4 separate regions of the Homo sapiens genome follow, and regions 2, 3 and 4 are each reported to be linked to region 1. The links are microRNA targets in miRTarBase. Many come from high-throughput screens and were not tested one by one. Region 1 holds a microRNA gene; each other region holds the end of a gene's coding sequence.

Region 1 (7,991 bases):
GCATGGTGGCACACCCCTGTAATCCCAGCTACTTGGGAGGTTGAGACAGGAGAATCATTTGAACTCGGGAGTCAGAGGTTGTAGTGAGCCAAGATCACACCACTGCACTTCAGCCTGGGCGACAGAGCAAGACTCTGTCTTAAAAAAAAAAAAAAAAAAAAAAAAGTTCCCAGCAGGGTTATTCCTGAGAGAGGAAAAAAAACAAAAGGCAGACCAAGGCCTTCTTGGCAACAGGGCAACAGAAAGGATCAACACACTGTGGATATTCATTCAATGGAAAGCTCTACGGCAGTGAACATGAACAGAGCCATGTGCATCCACATGGACGAATCACAAATGTAATGCTGAGCAAGTCACAGAAATCTACTGTAGGATTCCATGTCCAGGTGTTCAAAACCAGGCAAAATTCAACAATAAGTTATTCAGAGGTTGGCTATCGGTGGGAAAACTAACAAGAACAAGAGAATAAATATCACAAAATTCAGAATAGCTGGGGTGCCAGGTGTGGTGGCTTACATCTGTCATCCCAGCACTTTGGGAGGCTGAGGTGGGCGGATCACCTGAGGTCAGGGGTTCAAGACCAGCCTGGCCAACATGGTGAAACTTCGTCTCTACTAAAAATACAAAAATTAGCCGGGCATGGTGGCACACACCTGTAGTCCCAGCTACTCAGGAGGCTGAGGCAGGAGAATCACTTGAACCCAGGAGGCAGGGGTTGCAGTGGGCCGAGATGGCACCACTGCACTCCACCCTGGACAGCAGAGTGGCAAGATTCCATCTCAAGAAAAAAAAAAAAAAAAAAAAAAGGAATAGCTGAGGGAAGGGACTTCAACCGGGGAGGGAACATAGGGGGCTTATATGGTCCTAACCTTAACCTAGGGATGGGAACATAGATGTTCATTTTACTATTTTGTTTTAACATACTCATATGTTTTAAACATGTCTTCTGTTAAGTGTGGGATTTTGCAATAAACAAATGGCAAAATGAAGAAAAAAAAACATGCAATGGCACACAGAGTACTGCAGACTTTTTATTTGTGCTGACATCGGACGATTTCCAAGATACACTGATAAATGAAAAGGGCATGGAGCAGAAAGGGCACAGGAGAAACAAACAATAGATATATGTTTCTGTAGCCGGGCGCAGTGGCTCACGCCTGTAATCCCAGCACTTTGGGAGGCCAAGGCAGGTGGATCACAAGATCAGGAGATAGAGACCATCCTGGCTAACACGGTGAAACCCCATCTCTACTAAAAATACAAAAAACATTAGCCGGGCATAGTGGCAGTTGCCTGTAGTCCCAGCTACTCAGGAGGCTGAGGCAGGAGAATGGCGTGAACCCGGGAGGCGGAGCTTGCAGTGAGACAAGATCACGCCACTGCACTCCAGCCTGGGCGACAGAGCGAGACTCTGTCTCAAAAAAAAAAAAAAAAGAAAAAGAAAAAGAAAAAAGGAAATATGTTTCTATTTCAAAGGGCAGACCACCTCCAAGAGGACAGACAAGATAATTTAACCGGAAGTGGCCTCCTGGGAGGGGACTGGGTTACTGGGGAGAGAGGAAAAAGGAGACTCATACATTTCAATGTTTGTACAAGGTGCAAGTATTACATAGCTAAACTGAATACCTTTTTTTTTAAGTTAAACACTAACTCTTTGGATTACCGCTTGGTAACCTGCTAGAAGACTATTAGGTTCAACAGTAGCATCTCTGAGGAGTTACCTAGGTCATACCTGGGCTTCCTTGGCCCCATCAGTAACTGTTACATGAGACCTGTTTTCAGCATGGAAGGCACTCTACCATCTCAAATGATTTCAATGGGAGGGTAGAACTCCAGCCCATTCAAGCCCAGGGTTCCACAGAGACCCCTTGGTTGGACTCTGTCAATGACTAAACCCTTGGGCTTACGCTGCTGGGCTAGCTGATGTGGGACAAAAATCTCGCAGATGCAGTGGCCGAAATGTCCTTTCGGGGCCATAAATCTGCTAGGAATGGCTGCATTTGCCCTTTAGCCCAGAAGTATCCTTAATCTGGCCCTGGGGGGAAAGCCTCTTTAAACTGTGTGTTCTCTCCAGCTGGAGAAGCTAGCCATCGGGGAAAGAAAACTGATTCAGAACTGCAAAAGCAATAAAGAAAGAAGCCAGATACAGGACCAGACACAGATCTTTTCTTGGAAGGTAAATCATACCATCCCTTATCTTGTGAATTTAGTCTCAATTATGTCCCCTGTTGGCAGCAAATGCCCTGTCTTTTCTGCACACCAAAACCCATTCCAAAGTCCCAGCACCAGGAACTATGAATATCAAGAAGTAGTTGGGAGAAAAACAGAAACAAGTGTTCTTAATTCATATTTTGTGTCTGCTAGGAGAATCCTTCGTCTAAAATACCTCTTCCACCATGCACCTAAAAAATCCAACGGAAAACCTCAACCTCTTAACTCTAACACCTACAAATACTTTGTTTTGATCAGTGTAAATCTGTTTGCTAGGAGGCAGTTTCAGCTTCCACCTATCCCGCCCTGGAAGCAAGGCGAAAGCTCCAAGTACCCTGAAGGTGTCTCTCTCCTGACAGCTCTTCCAGAGGCCTCAGCCCTTCAGCCCAGGCTCACCAAGCAGTAGGCAGCCTACCACAGATGAGATGCAACTGTCTCACCCAGAAACCGTCAGATGAGGAGAAATGGGAGGCACTAAGAGGCAAGAACTGGGGAAAATCAGCTCAAGAATCTTCAGGCCCTACCAGCCCTTTCTCCTCTCTGGGTAACATTTTCTCCGGGTAAGTCTCAACGCTTATTGCTCTGGTCTCAAGCTATCTCAATTTTCTCAGGAAATGCTGAGTTGGGCTTAAAAGCCCACCATCCCGAAAGATGGTGCCCTGTCCCAATTCCCTATTTCTTTTCTATTTGTCTCTCCACTTTTCCCCGACCTCAGGTCTTGGAGTCAGCTCCCTTTAGCTAAATAAATGGGGTGGCTTTTTCCATCCTGCATTTCAAGATGAAGATTGAGCTGCAATTTAGAGCTCTCCAATCCCTCCCTCCACTTGGCCCCATGACAACTTTTCTTCTGTGACACTTTATATTTGCCACCTCCTTCCCATTGCAACCACTTCCCTAACCTCCACTTGCATCATTCCGGAATGTCTGAGTTACATTCCCTGCTGAGCTAGTCCCCACCCAACCTCTGCCTCTCCCCATTCCCAGGCAGCCACCCACTCCGCCCAGAGGTTTTCCAAAAATCCCATTCACCTCTGGGTAGTCCTGGCTCAAGCATCTCAGGGGCTTCTTATTGTCTCAAATCCCAACACGCAGCTGGGGTTCACAGAATGAACTTCCAGCCCTAATGCTCACTACGCCCCACCAGCACACTCCAACATTGCTTCCCAAGTGCTAGGCCCTGAGGATTCCACAGTGATCAATGCAGGCACAACCTCCACCCTTGCCGGCTTCCCACTGCCTTCCTCCACGCCAGCGAGGCTGGGGCATCACCCTCTGTCTCATCACCTGGCCTCACTCCCATTGCCACTGTCCGGGGGCACCCGCCTCCTACGAACTCAAATATCACACATGCGAGGACCAGCTCCTCCACCCACCTGAGAGAGTCCCCTCATCTTGCAGGGCCTCGGATTCACATATTCTACCCTCAAGGGGTTCACTTCTAACTGTTCATCACTGGTCCCATTAACAGAGCCACCATTACGGTGTGTCCAAGTGTCAGGCACATGACTGTGTGATTTCATTTGTTTATGTGTTATTTCATTTGTACAGAATGAACGTGTGTTATTTCATTTGTACAAAAGTTATTGCATTTGATCTCTACCCAACAGCCCCCACTGGTTGGTTTCCTCATCTATAAAATGGGGGTAGTAAGACAAGGAAGGAAGGTCTTACTGCCCTCATTTTATAGATGAGGAAACCAAGGCTTGAAGAAGCTAAGGAACTTGCTGATCAGGGCTAAGCCTGAACTCCATCCTGTCCGCCTGACTCCAGGGTCCATGCTCTCAACTCTGCTATGCCACTCCCCGGTAATTCCCTATGTGTGTTTTGTTTTTGTTTTTGAGATACAGTCTCACTCTGTTGCCCAGGCTGGGGTGCAATGGCACGATCTTGGCTCACTGCAACCTCTACCTCCTGGGTTCAAGTGATTTTCCTACCTCAGCCTCCCACCACACCCAGCTAATTTTTTGTATTTTAGTAGAGATGAGGTTTCACCATGTTGGTCAGGCTGGTCTCGAACTCTTGACCTCAGGTGATCCACCCGCCTCGGCCTCCCAAAGTGCTGGGATTACAGGTGTGAACAACCGCGCCCAGCCCCCTGTGTATGTTTATGCATTTAGCATCTCACCTGGCACAGAAGCAGGATCAATGAGGTCATTACTACTCTTCCACGCTAGCCAGTCACTATGCAAGCATGTATTTTGTCCAGCACGTGCATTCCCTCTCTCCCAACCACGGATAAACAACTCAGGGCAAGGCCACCTTGTCAGATCCTCCTGTGGCCTCACAGCATCCAGTAAGGAGCTGTGCATAGCACAGATGCACAGTAAATGCTGAAGGAAAGAACCATTTCTTGGAGTACTGCCCAGTAATAACTTGTCCTCCTTAAGCCACTCAGTCAACTGAGAAAACGCAGGATTAGAAAATGGGGCATTCATTCTGCTAGATACTGATTGCCACGTAAGAATATCAGAAGTATAAATGGACAGAAAGATGGCTCAGGTCAGCAAAAACACAAATAGCTATTTTGCAACCAGTTGGAATGGGGCAGTCAAAAGCCAGGAGGGCTGAAGAAAACCTTACAGTCTTACTGAAACAGCCTTGGGCAACATGGCAGGGAGAAGAGCCCTGCCTTAGATGGAGGTAGACTCCCAGTTGGCCACAAGCCATGCGACAACAAATGGCTCTTATGATAAAAGCTGCAAACGTCCATGAAGTGATAACTTCAGAAGGAAAGGGGAGGGTCTCAGGTTGGTCTTTTCAGCCCTGTGCACTGTAACACCCTGCCACACCATATTGCAACATCCTGTGGAACGGCAGCATATTCTGAGAACCTCAGGCCAGAATCTGGTTTGCTGCTGTCAGAGCTTGGCTATAACTCTTCCTAGTGAAGCTGAGAGAGACACTGAACCTCTCTGAACCTCGGGTCTGTCATCCATAAGCAGCAAAACCACAACCATAACCAGTTCCAGGGAAAACTGGTTGATAAAATAAAACTAGCCAAGTGCTGTAGCTCATGCCTGTAATCCCAGCACTTCAGGAGGCCGAGGCAGGAGGATCGCTTGAGCTCAGAAGTTTGAGACCAGCCTGGGCAACACAGTCTTTACAAAAAATACAAAAACTAGCCAGGCATGGTGGCACATGCCTGTAGTCCCAGCTACTCAGGAGGCTCAGGTGGGAGGATCATTTGAGCCTTGGAAGTTGAGGCTGCAGTGAGCTGTGATTGCACCACTGCACTCCAGCATGAGTGACAGAGTGAGACCCTGTCTCAAAAAAAAAAAAAAAAAAAATCAGCTGGGTGTGGTGGCACATGCCTGTAGTCTCAGCTACTTGGGAGGCTGAGGTGGGAGCATTGCTTGAGCCCAGGAGGTGGAGGCTACAGTGAGCTTGGATGGTGCCACTGTACTCCAGCCTCGTGACAGAGCAAGACCCTGTCACACACACACACAAAAAAAAGGTGGGGGGGGAGAGAAAAAAAGAAAAAAATGAAATAAAAAAACTATAAAGTGCTACACACACATAAGGGATATTATCAAGAACAGAACATCAGCAGTCAGCTCCATATGGTGTCCTGGAGTAACACTAGTTGAGATTAGACCCCAGTATTTGCTGACGTCTTGATGGTTAATGGGCAGGGGAGAGGCCACCAATATTGTTATTGGCAATTGCTCTATTTTTCTTGAGGTAAAGGGTAAATTCCCCTTTGTGAGCAAAACATCTTTTTCTGTATTGTAATTCCATTCTGCTATCTCCAAGCATTCAGTAAAATGTTGTGAAATGCCTGACAGGTCGTTTGTGTATTTAAGGCAATATGGTATGAAGGGTGAAGCAACAGCCCTGAGGCAGGGAGAACTAGGCAACATACAGAAGAGAACAGCTGGCCAAGGAAATAACCAAGCCAGACAGATGACATTCATTTAACCTATGTTTTTCACTCCCTAACTATGTTCCAAACTTGGTGGAACACATAAGCATCCCTGGGTATTTGTAGAAAAACTTGGGGAAGGGAACTCTATAAAAGATAGGTCTTCTTTTTTTTTTAAGATGGAGTCTTGCTCTGTCACCCAGGCTCCCAGGCTGGAATGCAGTGGCGCGATCTTGGCTCACTGCAACCTCCGCCTCCCAAGTTCAAGCAACGATTCTCGTGCCTCAGCCCCCTAAGTAGCTGGGACTACAGGTATGCACCACCACGCCTGGCTAATTTTTGTATTTTTGGTAGAGATGGGGGTTTCGCCATGTTGGTCAGGCTGGTCTCGAACTTCTGACCTCAAATGATCCACCCGTCTGGGCCTCCCAAAGTGCTGGGATTACAGGTGTAAGCCACTGTGCCCGGCCTAAAGACAGGCCTTCCTACAGGTCAAGGAAGCTTGACTAATTGTTATTAGGGATTAAATTGAAAAACTGTCCCTGAAGACAAAGAGGTCAGGACCATCTAAGACTCAAAAGTCCAATAATTACAGTTGAAGGTTTTGCCTTCAACAGTGTTCATCCCACTATCTCCTGGCTCCCATGATTTCTGAGGAGAAATGAGCTGTTAATCTGATCAAAGATCCTTTGAACAAGATAAGTTGCTCATCTCTTGCTGCTTTCAAGATTCTTTGTCATTTGACACTTTGATTATGAAATATCTAGGTGTGGATCTCTGATATTCATCCTCATTGGAGTTCACTGAGCTTCCTGAGTGGGTAGGTTACTGTTTTTCATCAGCTTGTGGCCATTCTTTCTGACCCTTTCTCTCCTCTCCTTCTGGGACTCTCATGATGCATATGTTGATTTGTGTGACGGTGCACCATGGGTCTCTGAGGCTGTTAATTTTCCTTCATTCTTTTTTCATTAGCCTGAAAAATCTCAAGGTACCATCTTCAAGCTTGCTGATTTTTTTCTGCCTGCTCAAATCTGCTGTTCAGCCTCTAGTGAATTTTTCATGTCAGTAACTACACAGTTCAACTCCAGAATTTCTGGGTTTTTTTTGTTTTTTTTTTTTTTGAGACTGAGTCTTGCTCTGTTGCCTAGGCTGGAGTACAGTGATGCCATCTCAGCTCACTGCAATCTCCACCTCCCAGGTTCAAGCGATTCTCCTGCCTCAGCCTCCTGAGTAGCTGGGACTACAGGTGCGTGCCACCACACTCAGCTAATTTTTTGTATTTTTAGTAGAGACGGGGTTTCACTGTGTTAGCCAGGATGGTCTCGATCTCTCGACCTCGTGATCCACCTGCCTTGGCCTCCCTCTATTTGGTGAGACACTCTTCTCACATTTTCCTTAAGTTCTTTAGACAAATTTAAAATAGTTGATTTAACATCATTGTCTATGAAGTCCAACATCTAGGCTGGAAAAGACTGTGTCTTTCCTGTGTATGAACCATACTTTCTTGTTTCTTTGCATGCCTCATAACTTTTTGTTGAAAACAAGAATAACTTTTTTCTGCGATTTTTCCTGAATAAATGTGTCTTAGATTGTTGCAAGCCTTTGGTTAATTTCTCGAGTTCTGAAAAAGTTGGTTTTAATCATTTTTGCCAGTTTTCTCATTCCTTTAAATGGAGGAACAGCATTTATGAAGTCCTCACTCCACCACTCCCCAGCAATCTATATCTCATATGGCATTTAGAAAGAGGTTTTCATCCCCCAAAACAATTTTTTGGAAAAGAGGGGTAAAAGAGTCAAACTCTGATATTTAAGTACCTAGTACTCGACCGTAAGCCCCAAGTAGTGTTATGAATTGCACCCTTCTCTAATTAGATTTTTTAAATTGATAACTTAAAATTAAAACATCCTATAAAGAAAA
Region 2 (7,991 bases), not on the chromosome of region 1:
CCAGTTTCTACTAAAAATACAAAATTAGCCGGGCGTGGTCGCGCATGCTTGTAATCCCAGCTACTTGGGAGGTTGAGGCAGGAGAATCGCTTGAACCCAGGAGGCGGAGGTTGCAGTGAGCCAAGATCGCGCCATTGCACTCCAGCCTGGGCAACAAGAGCAAAACTCTGTCACACACACACACACACACACACACACACACACAGACACACCCACACACAAATTGCTAATCTTTATTTTGCTTTTCAAAGTAAGTAAGAATTTCTTAAAACCTTTTAACAAGCAAGGTACACTCCTGTAAATAAAATTTAAAATGCATTTCTTTCTCTCAGCCTAGCTCCTCTAAAATCTAAAAACTAGTTAAATTATTCTTGACTTACAACAATATAGTTGTTTGCATCAGTGCAACACACACACATACACACACACATAAATGTGCACCTCTTCCAAAAACCCTTAAACTAGCACCCCCCCCTAAAAAATCCTAGCTACTGTTCCCTACACAATGCCCCTTTCAAGCAAAAAGCAGTCCAAAAAAATCCAATGCCTAATCTCTATAAAAATAGTTAGGGTTTCCACTCCTGAGTGGAGACTGAAAGAAGTTTGCTTGCCTTAGGTAAATAGCAACAGAAAGGTCTCTGAAAAGTCCCCAGCCCATGAGTCATTGCCTCCACCCCATATAATGTAAAATGCAGCCTGGAAAAAAAAATTCAAGCTGCAGGCACCAATAAAAAAACAGGCACAAAGTATTGTGCCTAAAAACATGCCCACAACTGCACAAATAAAAAAACCCTCCAGCCTATTTACATAAAAACTTGCACAAACCTCTAGCTCACTCAAATAAAAAACAAGGCCTGGTATAAAATGCCTTTATCCTTTATATAATCAGAGGGCTCCACAAAAAGTTTCTTCTCCTTTTGTGGGCATAAACACAGTGGGCTCCAGTGGGCACTCACCTTTATTTAAACTATACAGCGGCTCCTATAAATCATCATTTCAGACCCTAATTGGTCCCAGGCCAAGGTCCCAGGCCAAGCTTTCACTTCAGCTTCTAATAGGTCCTGGGCCAAGCTAAGCAGCATCTATATATCATCATTTCAGCTTCTAATTGGTCCTGGGCCAAGATCTCAGCCCAAGCTTTCTAATTAGTCCCAGGCCAAGCTAAGTCACAAGATCTCCAAAACAGCCCACAAACTAAGCACATTTCTTTTTATTCCTAGTCCATAATAACCCTGAACCCCAGCCTCACAGGGGGAACTCCTACTCAGAAACCCCTCTCTGCTAGCAAAAAGCTTTCTTCTTTTGCTTATTAAACTTTCACTCCAACCTCACTTTTGTGTTCGTACTTTTTAATTTTCATAAAAATAAAACAAAAAACTCTAAGTGTTATCTCAAACAAAAGAAAACCTGTTAAATCTTGTTGCATTGCTAAAACTACATAGAACTACTCTAGGAATATACCAGGAAAGGCAGGATAATTCACAGTCCCTTTAAAGGAAGCAAATAGCTCCTGTAGGACCTGGGAGACAGCCCAAATATTCTGAGTGCCCAAACTGTAAAAATGGAAAATGGGGCTTTATAAGCTCCCAAATTTATAAAACAATAACTATTAGACCTAAGAAATTAAATAGACAGAAACATAATAATAGTGGGGGACTTCAATACTCCACTGACAGTACTAGACAGGTCATCAAGATAGAAAGTCAATAAAGAAAAAACGGATTTAAACTACACCCTGGAACAAATGGGCTTAACAGCTGTTTACAGAACATTCTAGCCAAAAACCACAAACTATGCATTTTATTAATCAGGACGTGAAACTTTCTCCAAGACAGAACATATGATAGGCCAAAAAACAAGTCTCAATAAATTTAAGAAAATTGAAATGATATCAAGTACTTTCTCTGACCACAGTGGAATAAAATTGAAAGTTAACAACAAAAACCTTTAAAACCATTCAAATACATGGAAATTAAATAAACTGCTTCTGAATGATCATTGGGTCAGCAATAAAATCAAGACAAAAAATATTTAAAAATTTTAATGGAATGATATAGTGACAAAACCTATCAAAACCTCTGAGATACAGCAAAGGCCGTGCTAAGAGGAAAGTCCATAGCTTTAAATGTCTACATCAAAAAGTCTGAAAGAGCACAATATACTAAGGTCACACCTCAAGGAACTAGAGAAACAAGAACAAACCAAACCCAAACCCAGCAGAAGAAAGGAAACAACCTAGCTCAGTGCAGAACTAAATAAGATTAAAAAGAAAAAAAGACAAATGAAACATAAACCTGGTTTTTTAAAGGATAAATAACATTGATGGACCATTAGCAAGATTAAGAAAAAAAGAGAGAATATTCAATTAAGCTTAATTAGAAACAAAACAGGAAATATTACAACTGACATCACAGAAATACAAAAGATCATTCAAGGCTACTATGAACACCTTTACACACATAAACACAAAAATCTAGAGGAGATAAATTAATTCCTGCAAATGTACAACCCTCCTAGCTTAAATCGGGAAAAATCAGAAACCCTGAACAGACCAATAACAAGCAGTGAGATTAAAATCGTAATTTAAAAAATTAACAACAAAAGAAGTCCAAGACCAGACAGACTCACAGCAGAATTCTACCCAACATTAAAAGGAAAATTGGTACCAATCCTATTGACACTATTCCACACGACACGGTAAGAGGGAACCTCCATAATTCATTGTATGAAGCCAGCATCACCCTAATACCAAAACCAGAAAAGGACATAGCCAAAAAAGAAGACTACAGACTGACCTAATGAACACAGAGGCTAAAATCCTTTAAAAAAAAAAATCTAACTGAATCCAACAACATATCAAAAAGGTAATCCACTATGATCAAGTGGGTTTTGTATCAGGGATGCAGGGATGATTTAACATATACAAGTCAATAAATGTGATACACCAATAAACAGAATTATGAACAATGATCATCTCAATAAACACAGAAAAAGCATTTGACACAATCCGGCATTCCTTTATAATTAAAACCCTCAGCAAAATCTGCATACAAAGGACATATCTCAATGTAATAAAAGCCATCTATGTCAAACACACAGCCTACATAACACTGAACAGGGTAAAGTTGAAAGCATTCTCTCTGAAAACAGGAACAACACCAGGATGTGTACTTTCACCATTTTTATTTAACATAGCACTGAAGTCCTAGCCAGAGCACTCAAATAGGAGAAAGAAATAAAGGGCATCCAAAGAGGAATTTAAGCTGTCACTATTTGTTGATGATATGATTGTATACCTAAAGAACCATAAAGACTCCTCCAAAAATCTCCCAGAACTGACAAGTGAATTCAGCAAAATTTCTAGATACAAAATTTATGTACACAAATCAGTCACTCTGCTATACACCAACAGTGACTGGGTTGAGAATTAAATCAAGAATGCAACTTTTTTTTACAATAGCTGGAAAAAAAATACTTAAAAATATACCTAAACAATGACATGAAAGACCTCTACAAGGAAAACCACAAAACACTGCTAAAAGAAATCACGGACGACACAAACGAATGGAAACACATCCCATACTCATGGATTGGTAGAATCACTATTGTGAAAATGACTACATTGCCAAAAGCAATCTAGAAATACAATGTAGCTCCCATCAAAATAGCAACATCATTCTTCACAGAATGAGAAAAGACAATCCTAAAGTTTACATAACTTTATACTATAAAGCCATAGTCACAAAAACAGCATGGTACTGATATAAAAATAGGCATATAGACCAATGGAACAGAATAGAGAACCCAGAAATAAAACCAAATACTTACAGCCAACAGATTTTTGACAAAGCAAACAAAAACATGAAGTGGGGAAAGGAAACCCTATTGAACAAATAATGGAGGGATGTTTAGCAAGCCACATGTAGAAGAATAAAACTGGAAACTCATCTCACAACTTATACAAAAATAAACTCAAGATAGACATAAGACATAAATCTAAGACCTAAAACAGTAAAAATTCTAGAAGATAACATTGGAAAAACGTTTCTAGACATTTGCTTAGGCAAAGACTTCATGAATAAGAACCCAAAAGTAAATGCAACGAAAACAAATATAAACAGATGGGGCTTAATTAAACTACAAAGCTTCTGCAGAGCAAAAATAATCAGCAGAGTTAACAGACAACCCACAGAGTGAGATAAAATATTCACAATCTATACATCTGTCAAAGGACTAAGATCCAGAATCTACAAAAAACTCATATAAACCAGCAAGAAATAAAAACAATCTCATTTAAAAGTAGGCTAAGGATATGAATAGACAATTCTCAAAAGAAGATATACGAATGGCCAAGAAACATATGGAAACTTGCTCAACATCTCTAATTATCAGAGTAATGCAAATGAAAATCACAATATGATACCACCTCACTCCTGCAAGAATGGCCATAATTAAAAAATAAAAAAATATAGTGTTGGTGGGGATGTGGTGCAAAGGGAACAATTTTACACTTCTGGTGTGAATGTAAATTAGCACCATTATGAAAAATAGTGTGGAGATTTTTTTAAAGAACTAAAAGTTGATCTATCATTTGATCTAGCAATCCCACTACTGGGTATCTATCCAGAGGAAAAAAAGGCATTATATGAAAAAAGATACTTGCACACACGTTTATAGTCTATGTGCCTATTTGTATACCAGCACCATGCTGTTTCGATGACTAAAGCTTTATAGTATAGTTTAAAGTCAGGTAATGTGATGCCTCCAGATTTGTTCTTTTCTCTTACTCTTGCTTTTGCTATGTGGAATCTAAAAGAAAATTTTATTATTTTTGATCACATCAGTTAATCTGGAGGACAGCATATTAGTTGAAATAAGCCAGGCACAGAAAGATTAACATCTCATGACCAAATAACATATTGTTACTCTCTTTTACCTCCCTCCTTGAGTAAAGTGAAAAAGGTTAAAGTTAATGGCATAATAACGCTTCATTGAATGCACAATAGTCTTAACATGTTAAAGAAATGTTTAATTATAAAATTAAGCTTATACATAATCTAAAAATTTTCAAATGTACTGCATTTATAGCATAAAAGTACAATTAGTAAAATGATTCACTAGTAATTTAATTACATTTAATTTAAAGTAAAATTAAAAATGCTTTTCTCTATGATGCAGAATATTACTCCAAACACCTACCTCATGCATCACTCAATATGAAAAGTAAACTAACAGGGCCTCTCCACTTAGATTTTCATCATAAACCTTACATTTTAATGCCCATACTCTTCCACAGAAAAAACCATAAATAATGCCCATCTAATAAAAAAGAATCTCTCCTATATCTGACACAGCAACAATTTATCACATGCTTTCACATGTGAATACAATAGGAATGAAATAAAGTAATTTGAGAGTTGAATTTCATCATTATTTACTTTTCAAATAAGCCATAATTTTTTCAAGAAAAAAAGTATACTTTCAATGTAATTATAACTCTCCAAAGAATCTTCTACTCCTTTTAAAGTTATTTACAAATAATCTAACAACTTATAGATTTTTTTATACTCAACACTCTGTTTTAGTGTAATGTCTAAAGTGTCAGTGCCTTAGTTATTTCTACTGTAAATTATTTAATATTTACATAGACTCAATTTTGGATTAAATATTTTTCATACTTACTGCATCTGCAAAAACACATTTCAATATAAATTCATGTTTTCTACGCCGTAGTTTTTGAAAAAAAATGTTTTTCCAAATTCATTACATTTGCAGGATTTTTCTCCAATATAAATTCCCTGATGTTGAACAAAGTTTGAGCAACTGCTTCAGTGTTTTTCTCTAGTACAAAATGCGTACAATAAGATTTGTAATACAAGTAAAGGTACTACAACCCTCCTATGCTCCTTATATTTGTTATGTTTGTCTTCAAAATAAACACGCTTCTTCACTTTAAAGTGTTATGTTTTCTGAAATTTCTTTTGACAGTAATTGCATTTATAATGCTTTTAATAAGTATAAACTCTGGTGTTGAGTAAGATGTGAAAAGATATCAATGACTTTTTCACATTCTTTATACTTGTACAATCTTTCTCAAGTAAAAATGCTTTCCTGTGCAATAAGATGTGAGTATTGGTTAAGTTTTGTCACATTCTTTACACTTATAAAGTTTTCTCCAATATAAATTATCTTACCTACAAGCAAGTGTAACAATCATTGGAAGGCTTTGTCAAATTCTTCACATTTTTAGGGTTTCTCAACAGGATGGTGTCTTTTATGTTTAGAAAAGTTTTAGGTGTTATCAAAATTATTGTCACATTTTTCAGGTTTGTAGAGTTTCTCACCAGTATGAATTTTCTTATGTCTAGTAAGGTGTGAGGACCGGTTAAAAGCTTTGCCACATTCTTCACATTTGTAGGGTTTCTCTCTAGCATGAATTCTCTTATGATTAGCAAGAGTTGCAGGCCAGTTAAAAACATTGCCACATTCATCACATTTGTAGGATTTCTCTCCAGTATGAATTACTTTATGGTTAGTAAGGGTTGAAAATAAAGTAAAGCCTTTGCCACATTCTTCACATTTGTAGGTATTCTCTCTAGTGTGAATTCTCTTATGTCGAGTAAGGCTGGAGCACCCATTAAAAGCTTTGCCACATTCTTCACATTTGTAGGGTTTCTCTCCAGTATGAATTCTCATATGTTCAGTAAGGTTTGAGGACTGTATAAAAGCTTTGCCGCATTCTTCACATTTGTAGGATTTCTCTCCAGTATGAATTTTCTTATGTCTAGTAAGGTTTGCAAACTGGTTAAAAGCTTTGCCACATTCTTCACATTTGTAGGGTTTCTCTCCAGTATGAATTTTCTTATGTTTAGTAAGGTTTGAAAACTGGTTAAAGTCTTTGCCACATTCTTCACATTTGAAGGGTTTCTCTCCAGTATGAATTCTCTTATGGTTAGTAAGGGTTGCAAACCAGTTAAAGGCTTTGTGACATTCATCACATTTGTAAGGTTTGTCTCCAGTATGAATTATCTTATGTTTACTAAGGATTGAGAATAAACTAAAGGCTTTGCCACATTCTTCACATTTGAAGGGTTTCTCTTCAATATGAATTTTCTTATGTTTAATAAGGGTTGAGGATTGGTTAAAGGCTTTGCCACATTCCTCACATTTGTAGGGTTTCTCTCCCATATGAATTCCCTTATGTTTAATAAGCTCTGAGAACCAGTTAAGAACTTTGCCACATTCCTCACATTTGTAAGAATTCTCTCTAGTGTGAATTCTTATATGTTGTGTTAGATGTGAAAGCATGCAAAATGATTTGCCACATTCTTTACATTTGAAAACCTTCTTTCCAGTATTTCTTTTCTTATGACTGTTTGAATTTGAAAATTTATGAAAGACTTTCACGTATTTATCACATTGAAATATTTTGCTCTGGGTAGTTCTCAAACATTGGTTAAGTTCATTATAACCTTCTTTGAACACCTTAGACTCATCCACACTTTTACAACTTATTCTTAATTGTAAATTCTCATGTCCACATTTTCCATATCCTCTCAGTATCACTTTTTGAAAAGAATCTTTTATGCTATGCTCTGGCCAAAGGTCTTCAGTGAAATGAGAATATATAACTGAAAGACATAAAAGTAACAAATTACACCACTTCCTAGACTCAGATGAATATATTTTACATATCAAATTTATAAAATTACACAAACTACATAAGCAAAATACAAAAATAAATAACTAAAAAATCCTAAAAGTTAAAAAAAAAAAAAGTTATGTACAAATGAAGAAGCTCAACAAATTAGGATACACACAATGATATTTATAACAAACACATATATAAACACAATTTCAAAAGTCACAGACAAGAAGAGAATCTTGTGAGTTGCAGTATAAAAATGATATGTCATTTACAAGCATAGTCTTTTTAAATAACCAGTGAATTTGTCAAGAAAATTTTGCAGGCAAGAAAAGAAGTGTGTGAT
Region 3 (7,991 bases), not on the chromosome of region 1:
AACTAATAATTTGCTTAAAACCCAGTCCTTAACCATGGGTATTCATCACTCTGAATTTTAAGCCTTGACATTTATGTCTGCTACAGTGGTATCTGGTGATAGAGTTGAGACCCTTGGGAGTTTAGTCCTTAGAATTTTCCTTTCCTTTGGGCAGTCTTAAGAAAGTTAAATTTTACAAAGTATCTCTTGAAAGAGCATTGGCTGTGGTCTAAGAGTAGAATTAAATGTAGCAATTTTATTATCTTTGGGGCAAAGGATTCTACCAGTGTTTAAAAACTCATTTTAAAGAAATATAATAATTTTGACATAAGCCTAATCAGCTGAGTGAGGTGGCTCATGCCTGTAATCCCAGTACTTTGGGAGGCCGAGGTGGGAGGGGATCACTTGAACCCAGGAGTTTGAGACCACCCTGGGCAACATGGGGAAACCCCGTCTCTACAAAAAAATACAAAAATTAGCCAGGTGTGATGGCACATGCCTGTGGTCTCAGCTACTTAGGAGACTGAGGTGGGAAGGATCGGTTGAGCCTGGGAGGTTGAAGCTACAGTGAGCCATGATCGTGCCACTGCATTCCTGCCTGGGAGACAGCAAGACCTTGTCTCAAAAAAAATTCTCCTCTCTAACTTCTGTCTTTCTAAACATGGAAGATGTATTTGAACATCTAGAGAGGAGCTGTTATAAAATAAAACACTTTAAAAATTAATTGCTCAGACCCAAGTATACATTATCCATTTTCTTTTTTCGAGATGGAGTTTCGCTCTTGTTGCCCAGGCTGGAGTGCAGTGGGGCAATCTTGGCTCACCGCAACCTCTGCCTCCCAGGTTCAAGCAATTCTCCTGCCTCAGCCTCCCGAGTAGCTGGGATTACAGGCATGCGTCCCCACACCTGGCTAATTTTGTATTTTTAGTAGAGTTTCTCCATGTTGGTCAGGCTGGTCTTGAACTCCTGACCTCAGGTGATCCATCCACCTCAACCTCCCAAAGTGCTGGGATTACAGACGTGAGCCACCGCATCCAGCCTCCATTTTCTTATTTAAGACTTACTGACTTGTCTAAGATCTCTTCCTGCTAAGTTATTTCAATGATATCTTCTTATAGGATTCTTATGGGAATTTTAGTAGTTTCATTGCAGATCAATAATGGGACCACGTTTTGGGGGAGTGAAGGGTGGGGAGCTGGGAATAAGACTATACATAATCAGAATTTTTGATTTTGCAGATTGCTCTAGAGACATGTTCTGATTTCAGTTGAGCTATTTCAGTTCCATATTTTTGAAGCTGATCCTTCGTTTCAGCCAAAATAGTAGATACAAATCAATGACGTTGTTAAACCTTTTTCTGAATTATTTTATTGCTTTGTAATTTACAAGATTCTTGACATTAGTGGTAGTGTTCACATTTAAGCTGTTATAACAGCCTTCTAATGGTAGACTTTTCTAAGTTTTATTAATTGAAAATGCCCACAAAATGATTATTTTACTGATTCACTTGTAATTCCCCCTTCCTTTGACAGGATATCTATAGAGAAATGGGGTTTGGTCACTATGAAGAAGAAGAAAGCTGTTGGGAGAAACAAAAGAGTGAAAAGAGAGACCGAACTCAGAACCGAAGTCGTAGCCGATCTCGAGAGAGGGATGGCCATTATAGTAATAGTCATAAATCAAAATACCAAACAGATCTTTATGAAAGAGAAAGGAGTAAAAAGAGAGACCGAAGCAGAAGTCCAAAGAAGTCCAAAGATAAAGAAAAATCTAAGTATAGATGAAAGATGAAGAGGCAGAATTGAGAGGCTAACATATTTACTCTTGTCTAACTTAAGAGTGCCAGGAAAGCAGATGCTTAGATTTTGTGTCAAAGCTTGTTATTTTTTTCATACTAGGATTATGGTCTTTAGATTAATACTGATTATATAGAGCACGGAAAGATAAAGAATTGAACATTTTCTTTGTATACTTTTTTACACTAATTTTATTGTTATACATAAATGGTAGTCTTCATTTTTGAAGTCTTACATTTTCACTCTTTTTTTAATGAAGTATTTCATACTACAAAAATACATAAACGTATATATAAAGGGATAATAAATGTAAATATCTGTGTACTCATCAGCCAGCTTAAGATACAGATGTTGTCGACATTTTAGAAGTTCCCTAAGGCCCTCTCCCTCTCAAATAATTATTTGGAATTTTGTGTTTGTCATTTGTCTATTATAGTTTTACAACATACGTATGTATCTGTAAGTGAAATGTTAATTTTGTATGTTTCTGAATTTTATATAAATGGCAAAATGTTTACTTCTGTGACTTTCTTTCATTTTTATTGCTATATAGTATTATATAAATATACTACAACTTATTCATTCTTGATGGACATTTGAGTTTTGTTTATTTGTTTTTGCTGTTGAAACAATGCTGCTGTGAACATTGTATCTAGCAGTTATATTGCTTGATATATTGATAAAATAATGCCAAATTTGTGTTCTGAAGTGACTGTACTAGTTTATACCTCTCTTGGCACTGTGAGTTACCTTTGTTTCATAGCATCTCCAACACTTAAGTTCAGACTTAAAAATTTGCCAACCTAGTGGATGTTAAGTGGTATCTACCTGTGATTTCCAGCAAGATTACTGTTATCTCTGCTCTTCCATGTGTAAGATGTCATTTTTTTCCTGGCTGCTTTTAAGGTTTTCTGTCACTGGTTGTAAGAAGTTTGATTATGATGTGCTTGCTGTAGTTTTTTTTTCACGTTTCTGCTGCTGCAGCTATTTTACCTGTGGGTTTATGGTTTTCATAGAATTTGGAAATTGGGGGGCATTTTTTCTTCTGTTATGGTTTTCTCTCTGCTCCTCTCATGCTTCTCCTGGGGCTCTGATGACTTGGATGTACGTTAGGCCCCTCAGAATTTTCTCCCAGTGTGCTGATTCTGTGCAGCTTTTTAAAAAGCCTTTTTCTCTCTGTGTTTCATGTTGGGTACTTTCCAGTGCTGTGTCCTCATTGTTTATTAATCTTTCTGTCTAAAGTATCTAATTTCCTTTTAATCGTATCCAGGTATTTTTCACCTCCGACATATTTTTAGTCTTTAGAATTTCTGTCTGGGTCTTTATCTCCCATGTGTCTCCTTCACATGCTCATGCCTTCCTCTATTTTTTTTTTTTTCAACATCTGGAGTGTATTGATAATAGCTCTTTCAGTGTGCTTGCCCATTCTGTCATCTGCATCATTTCTGGTCTGTTTCTATTGATTGATTCCCACCCTACCCCAACCCCCACCCTGCCCATATTGGATTGTAACTTCCTTCATTACATGCCTGGTAATTTCTGTTTTTAATATTGGGTGCTGGAGTTCTTTTAAGTATCTTGAACTCTGTTTGGGGACATAAAGTTACTTGGAAACAATCCGATCATTTTATAGCTTGCTTTTAAGCTTAATAAGACAGGACTGGGACAGCCTTTAGTTTAGGGCTAATTTGACCCACTACGAAGGTAATACCGTTCTGAATAATCTTCCTGGTTACACGGTTTCTGCATTCTGTCTGTTGGGAACATGAAATATTCTGAACCCTATTGAGCTCCCAGTTGTATCTCCTGTTCCTTACCTCACATGCATACACTGCTTGGTGTTTAGCTGAAGACTTAAGGGAAACCCAATATTCTGCCCTGCAAATCTTACCTTGGCTCCCCTAAATTCTCTACCCAGGGAGGTTCCCTTCCCTAGCCTTAGTGCCACAGCTTAGAAACCCCATGTAGAAGCTTGCGCAATTATAGGGCTTTCTTTGTTTTCCATCTCTCAGGAGTCACTGTCCTGCACTGGCTTTTGTCTAACATCTGAAAAACTTCCTTGTATACATTTTATATAGGTTTTAATTTAAGGTGGAGAAGGTAAATCGTGCCTCTGCTACTCCATTTTGACTAGAGTGGAAGTTAACTTTGTATTTCCTAAATGTTAATGAGGCTGAGCATCTTTTCCCATGTTTATTATTCATTCCTTATTGCTCTCTGAAAAGCTTGTTTCATGTCTTTTGCCCATTTATATAGTAGTAGATTGTTGTCTTTTTATACTTAATAGATTGTGGATACTAAGAATAAGTTAAGGAGTGCTGTCTCTCTCTCCTTCCCTCTGTCTGTTCTCTTGGAAGAAAAGAAAAACATTTAAATTAATCTGTTCCTTAAAAGCTGGATAGAGCTTGCCTATAAAATTGTCTGAACTTTGCATTTTTTTGTGAGAAAATTTCTTAACTATTGATTAGGTTTCAAAAATTATAGAATTATTAGCCTTTCTATTTCTTTAATGTTAGTCATTTTTATTACATTTTTCTGGGAATTTGTTTTCATTGACGTTTTTATTTTTTGATAGCATTGCGCATAGTTTAGCTAGATTTTTCTATCCTGCTTTGTTGATGAATGTCCTTATGTTTTAGTGTGTCTCATAAACAGCATATAGCTAGATGATGATGATGATGATTATTATTACTATTTTGAGACGGAGTCTCACTCTGTCACCCAGGCTGGAGTGCAGTGGCGCAATCTCAGCTTACTGCAACCTCCACCTCCTGGGTTCAAGCGATTCTACTGCCTCAGCCTCCTGAGTAGCTGGGACTACAGGTGCTTGCCACCAGGCCTGGCTAATTTTTTTTTCTTTTTTTTAGTAACAGGGTTTTCACCATATTGGCCAGGCTGGTCTGGAACTCCTGACCTTCTGATCTGCCCACCTCAGCCTCCCAAAGTGCTGGGGTTACAGGTATGAGCCACTGCACCCGGCCAATTATTTTTAAATCTAATCTGAACTTTAACTGGTTAGTTGAGTGCATTTTTATGTGTACTGATGTATTTGCATTTATTCCTTACCACCTTATTTTGTGCTTTTTATGTTTTTTTCTTCCACTCTTTTTTTTTCTTTTGGAATCAAAAATGTTTTTTAATTCCACCCTCACCCCTCTGCCCCCTCTTCTTTGTTTTGGGGGAATTTCCTTGGAATATTACATCCGTACTTAAAAAGTATAATGTTATATCTTTATCTTCCTCTCTAATTGAGAGTCTTGGAACTCTCCAAGTCACCCCTCTTGCAACTTTCGTGTTAAAATCATTCAGTATTTTAGTTATAGCTTGTGATTTTTCACCTTAAAATTAGACCTTGAGCTGGACTCAGTGGTGCACACCTGTAGTTCTGGCTCCTGAATGGCTGAGGCCGGAGGATCCCTTGAGGCCAGGAGTTAGAGGCTGCAGTGCACTGCGATTGTGCCTGTGACTAGCCTCTGTACTCCAGCCTGGGCAACATAGTGAGACACCATCTGTTAGAAAAAAAATTAGACCTTGTGATTATTACTGTTTTTGTACAGATAATTGTTGGTTTAGATTTACTTTATATGTTAGAAGTGTTTGTTTATTCATTATTATTCTCACATCTCAGACCTTTCACCTAGGATAATTTTCCTTCTTTCTGAAGCACATCTTTTGATGTTCCTCTAGTGACATCTGTTGATGGCAAACTCTTAGTTTACATTTATCAAAAGTATTTTCAATTCATTCTATAAAGTTGATTTTATATGTACATAATTCTAAGTTGAGGTGTGTCTTTTTTTCCCCCAGTACTTTGAAGAATTAGTCTACTATCTTTTTACTTTTGTTACTACTGGGGAGAAATCTTTTGTCATTCCAAATGTCATTCTTTTGGATATAATGTGACTTTTCTTTCTGATTGCTTTTTTGCTGTGGTTAAACTTTCAATTTTGAAATCAGTTGTAGATTGGCATGCAATCATAAGAAATAATACAGAGAGAACCTGTGTACCCTTTGCCTAGTTTCTTCCAGTGATACCATCTTGTAAGATTCTAGTATGGTATCACAACCAAGATGCTGACATGGACACAGTGGAGATACAGAAAATTTCCATCACTACAAGGACCCCTCTTGCTGTCCTTTTATAGCCACGTCTACTTCCCTGCCACTTCTGTTTTCTCCTTCACCTCTGTCAACCACTGATATGTTCTCCATTCCTATAATTATGTCATTTCAAGGATTTTATATAAGTGGAATTCTGTATTATGTAGCCTTTTGGGGAGCCACTCATAATCCGGAAATACATAATCCCAAATGCCATGATCATGAAGGTTGAAACCCTGATAATCATAATCCCAAATATGTAATTCTGGAAAGAATAATTTTAAAAACCTTTAAAAGATATTTATTTACATTTTGTTTGTTTGTTTGTTTTGAGATGGAGTCTTACTCTGTTGCCCAGGCTGTAGTGCAGTGGCACAGTCTCAGCTCACTGCAACATCTACCTCCCAGGTTCGAGTGATTCTCCTGCCTCAGCCTCCCAAGTAGCTGGGACTACAGGTGTGCGCCACCATGCCCGGCTAATTTTTGTATTTTTAGTAGAGATGGGGTTTCACCATGTTGGCCAGGCTGGTCTCAAACCCCTGACTTCAGGTTATTAACTTTTTTTTTTTTTTTTTTTTTTTTGAGATGGAGTCTTGCTCTGTCACCCAGGCTGGAGTGCAGTGGCACGATCTTGGCTCACTGCAAGCTCTGCCTCCCGGGTTCACGCCATTCTCCTGCCTCAGCCTCCCGAGTAGCTGGGACTACAGGCACCCGCCACCATGCCCAGCTAATTTTTTTTGTATTTTTAGTAGAGACGGGGTTTCACTGTGTTAGCCAGGATGGTCTCGATCTCCTGACCTCGTGATCTGCCTGCTTCAGCCTCCCAAAGTGCTGGGATTACAGGCATGAGCCACTGCACCTGGCTGATTATTCACATTTTTAAAAGAGGATTTGAGAAATACAAACACAGGCCACTTTACACAATAAAATAGGCAACAATAACATACGTATGTTTGCAAGCATAAGCAGTTCTCAGCTCTACTAATGACAGTCACATGGGTATGACAGTTATGAACAGATGAGTGGTATTTATAAAGAAATAGGTCAAAAAGGGAAATGTATCAATGCATAGCCCTGTGGTTGGTAATTGTGTATGCTCAGCTTTATAACTGCAGTCATTTGAAATACTTTAAGAACAACCAGTGTCTTCCACTGGCTTCACTCAGATGCTAATCTCTGGAAACACTTGCACAGACACACTCAAAACACTAATAAGTTTCTAGGTGTTCCTTAATCCAATCAACTTGACACCTAAAATTAAGTCCCAAAGAACACCTCTTATCAACTCAGCACCCATACATACCTCCTTAAACCGTACTTAATTTCCAAATAAAGACAATGAGAAAGTTGTAGTTCTACCTATCATGATGCCAGTATCCTCTGATTGTGATTTTTGGGATTTTAGACATTATGGATTTTAGATTAGGCATTTTGATCTTTTGGGATTTCACCATTCAGGATTAAGGTGTTCGAGATTGTGTCTTACAGGATTATAAACCAAATCCCTTTTTGGGATTGGGTTTGTTTTGCCCCAGTCAGCCTTATTCTTCAGAGATTCTTCCAGTTTGTTGCTGTATCAATAGTTCACTTTTATTTTATTTTGTTTTATTTATTTATTTGGGATGGAGTCTCGTTGCCCAGGCTGGAGTGCAGTGGCGCCATCTCAGCTCACTGCAGCCTCTGCCTCCTGGGTTCAAGCAATTCTTCTGCCTCGGTCTCCCTAGTAGCTGGGATTACAGGCGCACACCACTATGCCTGGCTAATTTTTGTATTTTTAGTAGAGACGGAGTGTCGCCATGTTGGCCAGGCTGGTCTCGAACTCCTGACCTCAGGTGATCCACCCGCCTCAGCCTCCCAAAGTGCTAGGATTACAGGTGTGAGCCACTGTACCTGGCCAATAGTTCACTTTTATTGTTGAGTAGTATTTCATGGTATGAATATACTGTAGTTTGTTTAACCATTCACCCATTGAAGGACATCTGGGTTGTTTACAGTTTGGGACCGTAATGAGTAAAGCTGCTGTTAGTTTCTTTGTGAACACAGTCTTCATTTCTTCTGGATAACTGCCCAGTAGTGCAGTTGTTAGGTCATATGATAATTGCATATTTAAAGAAA
Region 4 (7,991 bases), not on the chromosome of region 1:
ACTATTTATGGTTTTCAGTGTAATTTCAGACTCAGAAATGTATCTTTTTATAAATATTTTGGTACTTCTACTTGACACAAAGTAAATTTACAAATTTTTCTACTTTGTAAGAAAAAGGATTCCTGCATGTTGATGTGAGGTACAAACGCCATTAAAGAAATCTACAACTGAACCAGGAATGAAGAACGGAACAAAATTCTTAACCATTCGGTTTTCAATGACAGCATTATGATTTTGTTTGCTCTGTGGTTTTGTTTGTTGAGATTTTGAATGTAGTTTCCCATTAATATTAAAGAATGAGAATGATTTTGGAAACTCATTCCAAAATCATTGTATTTTGGAAACAAGAAATATGTGTGAGGGGCTGGGCGTGGTGGCTCACGCCTGTAATCCCAGCACTGTGGGAGGCCGAAGTGGGCAGATCATGAGGTGAGGAGAATGGGACCATCCTGGCCAACATGGTGAAACTCCGTCTCTACTAAAAATACAAAAAAAAAATTAGCTGGGTGTGGTGGCACGCGCCTGTAATCCCAGCTACTTGGGAGGCTGAGGCAGGAGAATCTCTTGAACCTGGTAGGTAGAGATTGCAGTGAGCCAAGATTGTGCCACTGCACTCCAGCCTGGGTGACAGAGCAAGACTCCATCTCAAAAAAAAAAGAAAAGAAATATATGTGAAGAAAAGTTGCCAATTTGTACTTACTGATATCTTCAGAGAACTCATTTTTAAGAAAAACTTTAATAAAAGGTAAAGAATGTTTAAGCTCGTAAGCTGTTCTTTATTTTTATTCATAGGTAACCTCAGTCTCTTGTTTAAGTCAGTAACTTATTTAGTGGTGTCTTCTTTCTTAAGGTCAGCCACACCCTTAGAAAAATTACCAATGAAAGTTGAAAAATTGCTCCCTTAATTGTAGCATTAGTTCAAGAATTTTTTTGAAAGAATAGTGCCATATGTATTAAAGAGATTTTTGAGGAACAAAAAAACACAGTCAAAAATTTGAGGGCAATATACTACTACTGATTTTACTCTAGAAATGAACCAAATTATTTTTAGTTGCTGTAGAGGTACTCCACTAAATCTGTAAACATGTTTTTTTGTTTTGTTTTGTTTTTTGCGTCTGCAGCGCAAATCCAGAAAAACCCTGTGCATCATCATTCTTATCCTTGTCATTGGAGTTGCGATTATCAGTCTCATCATATGGGGATTGAACCACTGAAGTTATAAAGGAGCACACTGTCGCACTACATTGTCTAAATTATGTAGGAAGATTCCTGTAATCATGTTTTTTTAATTATTATTTTAAAGCTATTGTATAAAGGATGGTTCCCATACTTTGTTATTTTTATTGGGGGGGTTGGGGTGGTTCCTTTGGATTAAATCTGATATTTTCTAATACTGAAAGATTTTCTAAATGTCACTGCTGACATAACTCCCTTGGTCTTCAATTTAATAGTTGTTAAGTTTTTGCCCACATTGCATATGCCTTTCATTTATAATTTATTTACCCTGCTTGACTTAGTTTTGGGAATTCGTAAATTTAAAGGTGTGTGTATTCTGTTTGCATCTCCCTGTCACTGTGACACACCTAGATGTGTGTTACTTCAATTAAAATTCTCAAATTTAATTTTGATTTGCTTCAGCAGGGAAAATATTCTCAATAATGTAAAATAATTAAGGTCTATACATGGGTTGTATTTTTCTGGTTCACAACAGCACAAAGTGTCTTTCATTTTTTTGTTGGTTTTCTTTTAAGATCTTTTTTACCCTGAAGTCGGTGAATACTTTTCTAGTTTATTTGATACTCTTTCTGTGTATATATTAAGCTTTTGCTGTAGATTGCCTAGTAAAATTACTAAGGATAGGTTGTTTTTACATATGGTCTATTTAAGTCTGATGTTTACGGGGGAAAGTGTAGTTACTAAAAATGTTTAACATAATTTGGAAGAAGAGTATGAACAACCAATACCAATACCTATTGCGTTTGGATTCTTAAGACCCCAGTTTGTTATTCCACTAAACTAGTTATCTTAACCATATCATCTGGTTTTGTGGGCCATTATTTACCTTCCCTTATGTCTTATAGAATAATGGTTAATATTTTTAGGTCAAAATTACTTTTGGAAAGTAACTTTCCCACAATTAACTGTTTTTGAGCACCTGACAAAATTTAGTGTTTACCTTGCGTGCCATTTTGTGTCATCCTTCATTAAAAAAGCAATTGGAGGTTTGCCAGTTATCTCACTTCCCTTTTTAAATCAATGTTGTTTTAATGCACTAATCTGAATTCTGTAAAGAGGATTATCTTAGTTTATACTTTGTATTTTATAATGTTCTTGTATAGCAGCTCGGTACTGAAGGCGGTGTTTAACTTGGCAAGCTCTGAGACTTCAAATGGGAACAAATAGTAAGTAGCTAAGTAAACCACATCTTTGCAACCAAAATAAAGATGAGTTAAAAGGTATCTGGTTAGGCCTATTTCATGAGGACTATGCTCTGGTGGGACCACAGGTCACCTGATACTTAGTGCTGTGCTGCCTGAAACCTCAGCATGGAGACATCACCACATGCACTGTGGCCATTCAGCATCTTTCTGGAGCACCAGTTCACTCCAGGTTTTTATTTTAGGGTGTCATCGATTTTACCTACTTTGTCAGACTGGTAGAAGTTGCTTTGCATATCAGAAAAACTCCATTTTTTTCCACAAAAGGGATTACAGAAAACTCTTTTGTGAGTGAGTGATTGGAACTTAGAGACTCCTGTTGCCAGAATCAGACTGCCCTAGAACAGAATGGACAATGCAGGGAGGAGAATTCACACAAACAGCACCTGTTCTGAGGCCTGTGCCAGCCCACCAGGCCTGCTCAAATGTGGTCTTTACTTCAAGTGCACAGAGGCACATGAGGTTTCTGGTGATAAACCAGCGTCTTACCGCTGTTTTAAAGTCCCATCCCCATGGCTTTCACAATCAGTTCCGTTTTTTTTGCTGTACTTGATAAAATGTTTATTCTCATACAGGTCAAGTACATTTACTTCTATTCACAGTGAGTACCCAATAACAACAAAAGCGCTTACAAATTTGGGGGGCGTGATTTTAGTACCTTTATTTGAAGTGTAATCATTTTAAATTATTATTATTTTAACTGGGGCAGTTATCAGTGGTTTAAACAGGAACTTTAGTGGCTTCAATTTGTTTAAGAAACATATTAAGTTTGAGGGAAAAATTTCCCATGAAATATTTGGAACGTAAGAGTAGTATTGATTAGAGAAAATTAAATAAGAAACATAGTATGGTAGCCAAATTTTTTAAAAAATCTTGAACTTTTCTGTAGGTCAGTTTTAGAACTGCTGTGAAAAGTGAAGGTTGCCCTGTGGAGATTAAAATTAGAGTTGTTTTCATAACTGACAGCATGGTGAATCCATTTGAGTCAAAGTGAAGAATTTCCTCATCAAGTGACTATACATTTGTTTTTGTGTGCTCAAAAGAAATACTCAAACACAGACTGATATTAACCAGCCAGGTAAATTGAACGACAATGTGGCATTAGGTATTTGGCTGTTTATTGGTCGTTAAATACTATGGTTTTGCAATATGATTGATGGTAAAAGAGTGATGTCATATTGATACTAGAGTAGCTTGTTTTTTTAGTAGGTGTGGGACCATCTCTTTTACAAGTGCAACTCAGTCTAGGACAGCCATGGATGCAGTGTCTGGAGTTGGACCCTCTGAGCCCGCTGGCTGCCCCAGTAGCATCTGCATTGGTGACCAAGGACACTGCACTTTGAAGAGGTCGCCACTGGGTTATTTAGTGTCTTCACTGCTTTTGTTAAAAATTGTAAAATTTTGTACACAAAAAGTTGTGTTTTTGAATATCAATTGTTTAGACACACCTACAATGATAAATAAGTGCCTTTAAAGGCCCCTCTTTCCATGAAATACATCTGTGGTTTAGCAAGGAAAGTACAAAATAGTTTATGTAGTTGGTATAATTTTTATTTGTGTCTTCATGTAGAAAAAATGAATGTCATAATAAAATATAAAACTTACGTAAAGAAAATAAAGTCATTGTCCACCTTAATAGCTAAGGTCCACAAGGGTAACTTATGCAGCATTTATTTTTTTTGAAAGTCAAAATTGAATTTATTTCTTTCACATGGCTGGTTTGCTGCAATATGAAGTTTCAGAATGGGCTGAAGTAAGTTGATTGAGGGATTTGAGTTGAATGACATTTTCAAGTTCATTTAAATATGATAAAAATTCATTGGTGGTAAATAACATCTGTCTTTCCTGGAAAAAAAAAAGTTGTGTATTTTCATGATTCAGTTAAAACAAAAAATGAGCCTGTGAATCCCAGGCCTTTTTAGTCCTCCATAACATTTGAACAGTTTGACTTGTCAGCAAAGAAATACACTTATCAAATTTTAAACCAATGGGAGCCTGAAAGTGTTACAGTGTACTGCTTCTTTGACAAAATTCTGTTTAACAACTACCCTAACATAATTTATAAATCAATTAAGATAAAACCATTTTTTTCTGAGTATTTAGGAATTTGTGTCCTCAAAATACTGTGACATGAAAGATAGGAAAGAAATTACCTGGTTGCCAGACATGCACGATTATCTTTCCTCATTTCAGCTGGATTTTCCAAAGTCAGTAGATTGGATAAAGCAGCATCTCATTCACTGAGGTCACAAGATAGGTAGGAAACTTCTTTAATGTGAATTTTGCATATTTTAACAATTCAGTTAGAAAAACAGAAACCACTTGATGGATTATAAGTGTAAAGTGTTTTAACATAGGGAATTAGACATCAAAAGGGTGGGTGAGGAAGGTGTCTGCGGCCCCAAAGTGGGTGGATCTCAGGAGCTGGCCCAGGCACTGCTGTGACTCTTGAGAACATCCAGAAGGCTGTGCTGTTGGCGTGCAGCACTGACAGTGTGTCTCAGGGAGCTGTCCCCAGCTGTCAGCTGTTAATAGCTCCAAAGCCAGTGCCTTGCAAGAGATTTTGAAACTGCTGTGAAACTCATGTCCTCTGCCCGCCTACACTTCTGTCTGCAGTGGCCTCTGAGGAAAGATGGTCTCTCCTTTTCTCATGGTCAACTCTCAACTTAGAACCAGAGACAGAAGGAGTTTGTGGGAAGTGTGGTTTCTGGTCTACCTGCACTGCAGAGGACATTCTAGAAAGAGAAGTGAGTTGACAGTCTAGCATAATTGTGAAACAAACACTGAGATGTACAGTTCAAACCACGTGAAGTGGAAGCCTCAGAATTTTCCTCACTTTCATTAAAGATTCTTTGATGGAAAAATTTAGAAGCATTGGCTCTAGATGGTAAGCAAGTCATTTTTTTCCAACCAAAATAAAAAATACATATACTAAGCTTCTGGGGCCCCAGGACTTAACACAGTTTCCTTCCTTCCTTCCCTTCTTCCTTCCCTCCCGTAGTAGTTGCTTAATAAATACTTAATTTGGCACTTATTTGGGGCCGGCTTTTTGCCAGGCTACTACATGCCTGGGCATAGTGTTCTAAGAGTGAACCAAAAGAATAAGCTTCCTGCCCTCAGGGAGTTTATGTTTTGTTATTTGGCATATAAAAAGAACTTGGTGTGTTAAAAGAAGGGAAATAGCTGTGTGAAAGGAATGAGGCAAGGAAGAAAGGGAATGTCTAAATATAAATCTCCGTTTGGACCAGCCTCCTGTTTATCCAGTTTTCCTTACTAAGTAACTGAATTTCATTTTCTTTTCTTAATTGACAGACTACCAGAAAATTGCTAGTTTTCTAAAGAGAAACTACTGATTTGAGTGATGATCTGTGTGTAATGGCTCCAAAAAGGAGCCGTTCTCTTGGTGGCAGCAGTTGGATTCAGAGCTTGGGCATCCTGATCATCAGGACAGACATTTACAGGATATGTATAGAATTACTGCCCCAAATAGAGGGCAAAGCACTAGACAGAAGGGTGAGATCCAAGGGGAATTTGGAATCTATATTTCATCAGAATGCACTCAAAGCAAAAACAGTAAGTATGCTCCATATAAAGAAATGTTTCTTAAAATGTTTTTAATTTAACCCTACCCATCCCTTGGCAAATCTTTTTCTTTTAAATCAAATAGGAATAAAGAAGAAAATCTTCCTATTGGCCCATTTTCTCATTATTCAAATACCATATCAATACACCAATTTTAATTCTTTGTTTTTGTAATCATTTGGTTAACATGAATATTATGTAATATTTTTCTCCAAATAATCCTAATTTTAAATGCAGAAATAGAGCTAAATAACACACTAAATAGGTTTTTGTAGACACTGTAGCTTCTGGCAAGTTTTTAAGAGGTTGGTCACTTAATTGCTTAGAGTGGGATTCCCGTAGGTTTTGTGTAGTGATGGCATTTATGCTTAAAATGTAAGTGGTGGAAGGCAAAACCAGATTTCCTGTCCAGTCGTTACACGCACAACACCTCTACTTGTTGACGAGGGAGTTTTCTAGAACTGAATTGAATCTTTAAATAAACTTGAAAGGGCATTAATTCCCACTTTGGCCAACCCAAAGTACAAATTTTTAAGTGTTTACTGTAAGTATCGTTAGGCAGTAGTTACTAACTCCAACACCTAATAGCATTGGTAGAAAGCTTATAAATGCAGTTATTTAGCCTCGACTAAGATTTTTCTGATACCTAGTTTCACTTTTTAATGCCCTCTGAAAGTTTTTTGATCAGTTGTTTAATGGGAGATCTGAAATGTTAAACTCAGACCAGAAAGAAGAGAACCTGTTTTCTAGAAATTAGGTTTTTAATCCAAGTAAGATGCAAGCTTTTGCTTTTTTAATAACTTGTATAGCTAAAAACTTGACGGTGAAAAGCTCTCAGATCAAAGCTGATCCTTCTGTCAGTAATGATTCTAAAAATAAGCAAGATTTTAATGGGGAATATATTTTATTTCATTCTTATCTCAAACCTAGGTACTGTGGTCGTTTTGAGTTCATTTCGAGGCATTTTCAATGTGCCTCAGGCCACATCCAACCTCTTCCCAGGGCCAGATTTAATGTTCAGCCTCATAAAGGTTATCATAGTTTTAACATTTAAGTACTATTTTGCAGTGGGTATATACCAAAATTTGCTAATAGTAAGATAACCTTAGTTATATATCATTCACGTTAGTTCTATCTTGGAGGCAATAAACATTTCTTGTTCAAGAAATTCATGTTCTATCTTGGAGGCAATAAACAAACATTTTTTGTTCAAAATTAGGGCTACCCTATTGTCCTTATGTCTTTTCCTGATCTGTGGTCAAACATTTTTCTTAGTCATTTAGAAATTTTCTATGTTGTTTTAAATTTTCTTTAAATCTAGAATGGAGTATGTGACCAATACTTTCCTTTGGAATGGTATGGACATTTGAAATAGAGCCCATTCTTTATAAAGTATAAAATATGTTTAATGCTAGTATTTTTAACTAAACTTTTGAGAAACTAGATTCACATGCTGTTGTAAGAAATAATACAGAGACCTCTTTCGTGTACCTTTCACTTTGTTTCCCACACAGTGAACATCTTTCAAAACTGTCATACAATATCATACCCAGGATACTGACACTGGTATAGCTAAGATAGAGAACGTTTCCACACAGAACTTTTTCTAGCACAGGGATCCCTCATCTTGCTTTTGATGACCATACCCACTTCACTCCCATCCCTACTCCCTTCTTAACCCTTGGCAACCATAATCTGTTCTCCATTTTTATAGTTTTTTTTTTTTTCATTTCAATAAAGCTGTATAACTGGAATCATAATAATATGTAACCTTTTGGGATTGGCTTTTTTTCATTTAGCATGATTTTCTGGAGGTTAATCCAGCTTATTATGTGTATCAAGTCTATTGACAGGTACTTTTTAGTGTGAATAGAATCCCATAGTATAGATGTACCACAGTTTGTTTAACTGTTCACCTGCTGAGAGACATTGGGCCAGTTTTTGGCTACTATAAATAAAGTTGCTATAAAC

What was found. Region 1 holds the annotated microRNA hsa-miR-3163 (UAUAAAAUGAGGGCAGUAAGAC, at 3,876-3,897, opposite strand). A microRNA usually pairs through its seed, bases 2 to 8, with sites in the 3' UTR of a target mRNA and lowers its output. Matches are read on the target gene's strand: a 7mer-m8 pairs with bases 2 to 8, a 7mer-A1 pairs with bases 2 to 7 and ends in A, and an 8mer does both.
Region 2: miRTarBase lists ZNF680 as a target of hsa-miR-3163. Seed matches in the 3' UTR shown: 8mer at 5,034-5,041.
Region 3: the mRNA of PPIL4 is a reported target of hsa-miR-3163. Seed matches in the 3' UTR shown: 7mer-m8 at 1,964-1,970 and 8mer at 2,267-2,274.
Region 4: the mRNA of STX7 is a reported target of hsa-miR-3163. Seed matches in the 3' UTR shown: 8mer at 2,318-2,325, 7mer-m8 at 6,922-6,928 and 7mer-A1 at 7,727-7,733.

The regions. Positions count from the first base shown.
Region 1 is chr11:66,930,601-66,938,591 of GRCh38, forward strand. It overlaps MIR3163 (microRNA 3163), which reads right to left and starts at 3,906; the gene lies at 3,834-3,906. All of the region lies in intron 3 of PC (pyruvate carboxylase), which reads right to left.
Region 2 is chr7:64,514,870-64,522,860 of GRCh38, forward strand. It overlaps ZNF680 (zinc finger protein 680), which reads right to left. Exons shown (of 4, transcript NM_178558.5): 4 at 5,009-7,631. The coding sequence ends at 6,292. Among named protein-coding and RNA genes, the nearest start is that of ZNF680, 44 kb to the right of the region's middle.
Region 3 is chr6:149,499,225-149,507,215 of GRCh38, reverse strand. It overlaps PPIL4 (peptidylprolyl isomerase like 4), which reads left to right. Exons shown (of 13, transcript NM_139126.4): 13 at 1,512-2,721. The coding sequence ends at 1,763. Among named protein-coding and RNA genes, the nearest start is that of ZC3H12D, 18 kb to the right of the region's middle.
Region 4 is chr6:132,453,981-132,461,971 of GRCh38, reverse strand. It overlaps STX7 (syntaxin 7), which reads left to right. Exons shown (of 10, transcript NM_003569.3): 10 at 1,122-7,991. The coding sequence ends at 1,214. Among named protein-coding and RNA genes, the nearest start is that of STX7, 55 kb to the left of the region's middle.